Homo sapiens: one gene and its partner. The protein of the gene in region 1 purifies or fractionates together with the protein of each later gene. This does not show direct contact. Each region holds a gene or a part of one and is shown on either strand. Other genes may lie near its edges. The genes, in order: MYO9A and UNC5B.

The links.
Region 2: the proteins of MYO9A (region 1) and UNC5B fractionate together in Homo sapiens (co-fractionation; one large-scale study listed by BioGRID). This does not show direct contact.

What each region holds. Positions count from the first base shown.
Region 1 is NC_000015.10:72,108,067-72,111,883, forward strand, and holds part of MYO9A (unconventional myosin-IXa), read right to left. Parts: intron 1-3,817. UniProt on the Homo sapiens protein: Myosins are actin-based motor molecules with ATPase activity. Unconventional myosins serve in intracellular movements. Regulates Rho by stimulating it's GTPase activity in neurons.
Region 2 is NC_000010.11:71,296,010-71,299,826, reverse strand, and holds part of UNC5B (netrin receptor UNC5B isoform 1 precursor), read right to left. Parts: intron 3,250-3,817; coding exon 3,085-3,249; intron 1,919-3,084; coding exon 1,737-1,918; intron 716-1,736; coding exon 550-715; 3' UTR 1-549. UniProt on the Homo sapiens protein: Receptor for netrin required for axon guidance. Mediates axon repulsion of neuronal growth cones in the developing nervous system upon ligand binding.

The DNA of each region.
Region 1 (3,817 bases):
TTAAATACCTAAGGATCAAAAAAGATGCTAAAATTATTAGAGAAAGAATACTGAGAAATGGAATATTTGTATGGTACCAAAGTATCAGTCCCACAGATTATTGTACATAACAGGAGAAAAAATTTACTTTTAAAATGGAGACATAAGCAAACACCACCTTAAACCTATCGAACTTACATCACTGATAGGAGGACAGCTGACATTATGTGCCTCCCATTAACACACAACATGATATACAACATCACCTACAGAGTGTTCTTGCCAAAACTTTTTAATATGAATCTATTCAATCCTTTACAATATAACTTCCAGTTTACAGGACATACAAGCACCAGAAGAACAAGTTAAACAATCTAAGAAACAATCAGAAAACTCTAGAAAACAGGCCATTCTACAAGATGATTGGTCTCTTCAAAGACATTTCAATGTCACAGGGAAGAGAAATGTGGGAAGGAACTTCCTACATTGAGAGACTAAAAAGAGATAATCAAATGAAATGCAAAAACTAAAAGTGAGTTCTCTTTTGAAAAAAACATTTTTCAGGACAGTTGGGAAAATTCAAATATAAATTCAATATTAAATTAGGGTATTATTTTTCCTAGGTGTTGGTAATAGCACACTGGTGATACGAAAAATATGTATTTCTTAGAAAATATATACGAAGTATTTTGCAGTAAACTTGTCATGACACATACATTTTTTTTTTTTTTTTTGAGACAGAGTTTCACTCTTGTCACCCAGGCTGGAGGGCAATGGTGCAATCTCAGCTCACCACAACCTCCACCTCCCAGGTTGAAGTGATTCTCCTGCCTCAGTCTCCCGAGTAGCTGGGATTATAAGCACCCACCACCACGCCCAGCTAATTTTTGTATTTTTAGTAAAGACAGGGTTTCACCATGTTGGCCAGGCTGGTCTCAAACTCCTGACCTCAGGTGATCCACCTGCCTCGGCTTTCCAAAGTGCTGGGGTTACAGATGTGAGTCACGGCACCCAGCCGCAACTTACTTTCAAAAGGTTCTGCAAAAATATATACAATCACAGCCGGGCGTGGTGGCTCAGGCCTGTAATCCCAGCATTCTGGGAGGCCGAGGCAGCAGGCAGATCATGAGGTCAGGAGGTCGAGACCATCCTGACTAACACCGTGAAACGCCACCTCTACTAAAAATATAAAAAATTAGCCAGGCGTGGTGGCGGGTGCCTGTAGTCCCAGCTACTCGGGAGGCTGAGGCAGGAGAATGGTGTGAACCCAGGAGGTGGAGCATGCAGTGAGCCAAGATCATGCCACTGCACTCCAGCCTGGGTGACAGAGCAAGGCTCTGTCTAAAAAAAAAAAAAAAATACACACACACAATCACACAGGGAACAATAATGCAAATATGGATGGCATAACGCTATCTTTTGAATCTAGTTGATAGACATAATTAGTGTTCTCTTCCAACTTTTCTATTTCTTTAAGATCTTAATTATAAAACAATAGGGGAGGGAAGAAAGAGAACTAAAAGAAAACAGAGTTGCAAAAGCAAAATAAGACAAAAATATTAGTCGGGTGCAGTGGTTCACGCCTGTAATCACAGCATTTTGGGAGGCCAAGGCAGGCGGATCGCTTGAGGTCAGCAGTTTGAGACCAGTCTGGCCAATATGGTGAAACCCTGTCTCTATTAAAAATACAAAAATTAGCTGAGTGTGGTGGCACACACCTGTAATCCCAGCTACTTGGGACGCTGAGGCACAAGAATCAAGAATCACTTGAACCTCGAAAGTGGAGGCTGCAGTGAGCCAAGATCGCACCACTGCACTGTAGCCTGGGCGACAGAGCAAGACTCTGTCTCACAAAAAAATAAATAAATAAATAAGGCAAAAAAAATCTAAAAATCGTTTATAAACATGTCCACACAGTCACCTAAGAACTTTCTCCCTTACATTAAAAAAAAAAAAAAAATCTAGCCAGGCAGCGTAGTGGCACACATCTGTAGTACCAGCTACTCAGGAGGTTGAAGTGGGAGGACTGCTTGAGCCCAGGAGCTTGAGTCCAGCCTGGGCAATACAGTGAGATGCTGTCTCAAGAAAAAAACAAAAAGGAAATTCCAGGCCGGGTGTGGTGGCTCACACCTGTAATCCCAGCACTTTGGGAGGCCGAGGCAGGTAGATTACCTGAGGTCAGCAGTTGAAGACCTTCCTGGCCAACATGGCAAAACCCCATCTCTACTAAAAATACAAAAATTAGCTGGGCACGGTGGCAGGCACCTGTAATCCCAGCTACTTGGGAGGCTGAGGCAGGAGAATCACTTGAACCCGGAAGCCGGAGGTTGCAGTGAGCCGAAATTGCACCACTGCACTCCAGCCTGGGAGACAGAGCAAGACTCCATCTCAAAAAAAAAAAAAAAAAAAAAAAGAAAATTCCAGAGATTACTCAGCCCACTATCATCTGATCAATAAAAATAAACAGATTTCAAACAAATACTTACACACTACAAACAGCAATAGTACTAAAATCTGTCAATTATTTAAGGAATGTTTGTCATTGACAAACAGAACACATTTTGTTATGATAACTCACACTGAATCAAATACATTCTAAAATCCATTAATCTTATATGCTAAGACATCAAGAGAAGCATTTCTTTGCAGTATTTTTTCAAAAATATTTTTTAAATGCCCCAATGCCACAAGAAATATTTTAACTGAAAAAAATCACACTTGAAAGACAACTAGTAGACAGACTGCCCTAATATCTGCTTCTTTTAGCAACAAACTTTGATTAGCCATTTATTCTAAAAGCCACACAGTGAAATTCTTAAAATTCTTGATTTCGGCCGGGCATGGTGGCTCACGCCTGTAATCCCAGCACTTTGGGAGGCCGAAGCGGGCGGATCACAAGGTCAGGAGATCGAGACCATCCTGACTAACATGGTGAAGCCCTGTCTCTACTAAAAATACAAAAAATTAGCCGGGAGTGGTGGCAGGTGCCTGTATTCCCAGCTACTCGGGAGGCTGAGGCAGGAGAATGGCGTGAACCTGGGAGGCAGAGCTTGCAGTGAGCCGAGATTGCACCCCTGCACTCCAGCCTGGGCAACAGAGCGAGACTCCATCTCAAAAAAAAAAAAAAATTATTGATTTCACATTTAAACATAACAAGAAATAGGCTGCGCACAGTGGCTCACACCTATAATCCCAGCATTTTGGGAGGCCAAGGCAGGCAGATCGCTTGAGGTCAGGAGTTCAAGACCAGCTTGGTCAATATGGTGAAATCCTGTCTCTACTAAAAATACAAAATTAGCCGGGCATGGTGGCGTGCACCTGTAGTCCCAGCTACTCGGGAGGCTGAGGCACGAGAATCACTTGAACCCAGGAGGCAGAGGTTGCAGTGAGCCGAGATTGCGCCACTGCACTCCAGCCTGGGTGACAGAGTGAGATTGTCTTAAAAAAAAAAAAAAATTAATAAATAAAACAGGAAATAGACGTATTCAAGAGGGAAAAGGAAGACTTACTGAGTACCTACTATATGCTTGGTGCTTTACATAAAAATTTTTTTAACTCCAATGATAGTCTTATGAGGCAAATATTACCCCCAATTTTTTTTTTTTTTTTGAGGCAGGGTCTCACTCTGTTGCCCAGCCTGGAGTACAATGGCATGATTACAGATCACTGCAGCCTCGACCTCCCAGGTTCAAGTGATCCTCCCACCTCAGCCTCCCAAGTAGCTAGGACCATAGGTGAATGCCACCACACTCAGCTATTTAATAATAATTTTGTCATTTTTGTAGAGACAAGGTCTCCTATGTTGCCCAGGCTGGTCTCAAACTCCTAGGCTCAACTG
Region 2 (3,817 bases), on another chromosome or scaffold:
CTTCTTTGAGCCTTACTAGCGGTCTGAAGCTTTCTTTCTTTCCTTTGCCTTTTTGCTTTTGGACAGGAGAAAGCAGTTTGTCTGAATTGTACTTGACTCTTCAAAGAGGAAAAGGGCGTGGAAGCAGAAGGGGGCTTAGGGAGAAAGGAGAAATCAATAACGGAGGAAGAAAACGAGAACGGAACTAAAACCCATGGAACCCAGAAGTTGCCGGGCTGAGGGTGGGGGGGTGGAGGGAGGGCCTCCTGCCTGCCCGCCCCCAACCAACTGCCTCCAGAGGCTTCAGCCCCATCTTGGTTCCTGCACAGAGATCTCAGGCCAAGAGAGAGAGAGCGGGGGTGGAGAAGGAACTCTGGGCCCTCTAACAACAGAGTACATGGATTTTCTAAGGCTGGTCATGGTCTGGGGGTTGGGGAAGAGGAGGAGGAGAGGCAACTCTGGCTGTGAACTGGGAGGAAGCAGAGGCCAAACATCCCCATCAGGAGGCTGCCCCAGGCCTCCCTGCACCTGCCTCCTGCCAGTCCCTGCCAGCCCGCTGTCCCAGGAGGCTCAGCAGTCCCCGTCGGTGGCCACAGCCACCAGCATCTCACTCTTGCCCATCTCCTCCAAGGCACTCGCCAGGCTGTTGAGGTCCCCATCGTCCTGCTGCAGAGCTTCCCAGAGGTCCAGGATCACACCCGTGGGGCTCGCTTTGGTGGCAAAGTAATTCAGGTACCTGGCAGAGGGAAGGAGGGCACTGAGGTTCCCAAGCACTTAGCCCCTCCCCGGAGCCTGGAGGTGAAGGGGCACAAGGGGAAGTGGGAAGGCTGTGAGCTTTGGTGTCCCACTGTCCTGGGTCTGAATTGCAGCTACTGTGCTGCAGTCTGTGTGGCTCTCGGCAATTCAGAACCTATGGCTCAGAATCTCAGTCTCCTTGTCTCTAAAATGGGAACAATGCCAGTTACCGCTCAGCAAGATCCAAGATCATATAAAGTAAGGGTCTAGCGTTGTCTCTAGCATGTAACCATCTTGTTCATCATCATCATTATTATCATTGAAAGACACTGGCCCCAAGAGAGAATGACCACGTCTAGCATGTGGTCATTCCTCCCACCCGTGTTCCCTCCTGCTCCCATGAACTCCCCTGATAGGAGGAATAAAGCCTTAGCCATCTTTGTAAGTCCTATTCATTTCTAGTAAAATGTCTTATCTAAAGCATATTTTATTTATTTATTTTTTGAGACTCAATGCAGGTTTATTACACATCTTTCAATAAGTATAATATTTATTATCATTGGCCTTATATTTATCCAGCACTTATCCAGCATTTGAGGTTCTCCAAAGGAGTTTTGACACCAAAGTGTATCTTGGTCAGTCAGCAAGCATCTCGCAGCACATTCTCTGTCCTAGATACCAGGTGCTGACAATGATGGCACCAAGCTGATGCCCTGGCTTTGAGTCTCCTGCTGTTCGGTGAGATGGGCAGGTGGAGCATTATCCCCACACAATGGGAAAAGAGCAGGGTCTGAGAGTCTGCCTGGCTCAAGGACCAGTGCTCTGAGCATGATGCTCCTCAAGGGAGCAGTATTCTTGAACTTTGCATATCCAATCCTGAGTTGCTGATTTGCCACAAATGGTGGCAAAAGGGCAGCTGGTCTGGGAGATGGTCGTGGCTGTCAGGCTGCCTGCCCTGCCTGCCCCTGTGAGACCTTGAGGACGAAGGCAGATGGGGATGGGCTGTGGTTTGGGATACTCACCGGTCCATAGAGAGCTTCTGTGCTAACATCCGCCAGTCATTGCCCCGTGAGTTGGGGGCATCTAGGCTGTTGCATATCTTCTGGCGGATGGACAGTGGGATCTTGAAGGCATAAGGTCCCAGCTGGGTGGTGACAGTGCTGCCAGGGGCAGAGCAGAGAGTGTCCAGGGAGCCAGCAGGTGTCTGCAAGGGTGGGGGCCAAGAGTGAGAGGGGCACAGTGCTGGGCATCTGCCCTCCAGCCTCCCTCCCCTTGGACTGTGAGCTCATTGAGCCTTGAGTCACTCCCACCTCCTCTGGACAGACTCCCACTGTTCAGGCAGGGGCTTCTCCCTTGAAGGGTCGGTTCCCAAGGGCAAGGCCTGCATGGCCACCCTTCAGGCCTCAGGGGGTGCACCATGCTTACCTAAGGCCCCAGGCAAATGCAGATGCAGCCTCATGGTTAGGAAGCCCCAAGGAGGCCCAGCCACAGTCTAATCCACATGCACCCTCTTGTACAGGTGGAAAGTGAAGTCTAGAAAAGGGGAGTGGCTTGCTCATGGCCACATGCCAAGTTAGTGGCAGACCTGGGTCCAGACCTGTATCCAGTGCTCTTTACAATGCCCCAAGAGGAGGATCTAGTGTTGTCACCCTGGGTGGCCTGGGTTTTTAAATCTCAATCCGGATTTTTAACGGTTGAGAACCACAGGCCTGGTCCTTGCATCAACCTGGGTTCGAATCCAGTCTTGCCACTGGTGTACTGTGTGCAAATCCTTGCCCTTCCTAAAACCTACTTTCTCACCTCCCAGGTGGGGATGATATCTGTCATGCATCTCCCGGTGCTTGTGAGATCATGTAAGTTTTTTGGTATATGCCAAGCATGTGAATGGCACTCAATCAATAAATGACACTTGTTAGAAAAACATGACCAGATACCCGCTCAGACTTGGGAGGTGAGAGGGAACTACAGGGTTCTGTGTGCTGCAGCCCAGCCCCAAACCCTAGAGGTATCCTCTGGCCCTCACCTCCACCAGCGTGGTGTGCAGCTGGAATATCTGGCGGCCCTTCCCTCACCTATGCCACAGTGCTGTGCAGCCGGAATATCTGGCCGCCCTTCCCTCACCTCCACCAGAGTGGTGTGCAGCCGGAATATCTGGCCGCCCTTCCCTCACCTCCGCCAGCGTGGTGTGCAGCTGGAATATCTGCCCCACCCTTCCCTCACCTCCGCCAGCGTGGTGTGCAGCTGGAATATCTGCCCCACCCTTCCCTCACCTCCGCCAGCGTGGTGTGCAGCTGGAATATCTGCCCCACCCTTCCCTCACCTCCGCCAGTGTGGTGTGCAGCTGGAATATGTGGCCCCGACTTCCCTCACCTCTGCCAGAGTGGTATGCAGCTGGAATATCTGGCCCTCCCCTTCCACTTGCCGCACGCAGATCTTGCAGGTGAGCTCTGTGGAGGCCAAGCTGTGCCTCTCCAGGGTGAAAGTGCAGTGGAGGGCCTTCTGGCTGCCACTCCAAATGTGATAGAAGGGGATCTCCTGCAGGAGGAGGGGGTCAGGACCAGGCAGGCAAGGCCAGCCTGCCCTGTCCTCATAGAAATGGAGGCTCAGGGAGGGTTGGGAGCTTTGGGGGGCAGTTCAGGCCTCTCCACCCAGATAGGGAGGGGTCAAGTGCCCTAAGCTAGCCAGCTGAGTTGGTGTCAGGCCCTCAGTTCCAGAAGGGAGCTGAGGGTGGGTAGGTGGGGGAGGGAAAGGCACAGGTGTGTGTGTGTCAGGGGCTAGGGGGCCTTGTGGTCTCAGGCGCTGCTGGGTGGGCAGCGGGCTGTGGCTGTCAGAGATGAGATGGGCAGTCTGCCAGGAGGGCATGCCCTGAAGGGTGAGGAGCCTCTGTGAGGATGAAGGGCATAGTCGTCTGTGCGTGTGAGGGTGTGACAGGGCAGAAGTGTGCATGTGGCTGCCCATTGCCCTGAATTTGGGGACGTGCCTGGGGATGGCTGAAAGCCTAGAGACTGGGGTGGGAGGAGACAGAGACAGTGAGAGATCCAGGGAGGGGTAAGGCCACAGGACAGAGCTAGGAGGCAGGGCCCGGGAGGGAGCTGGGCTTCCC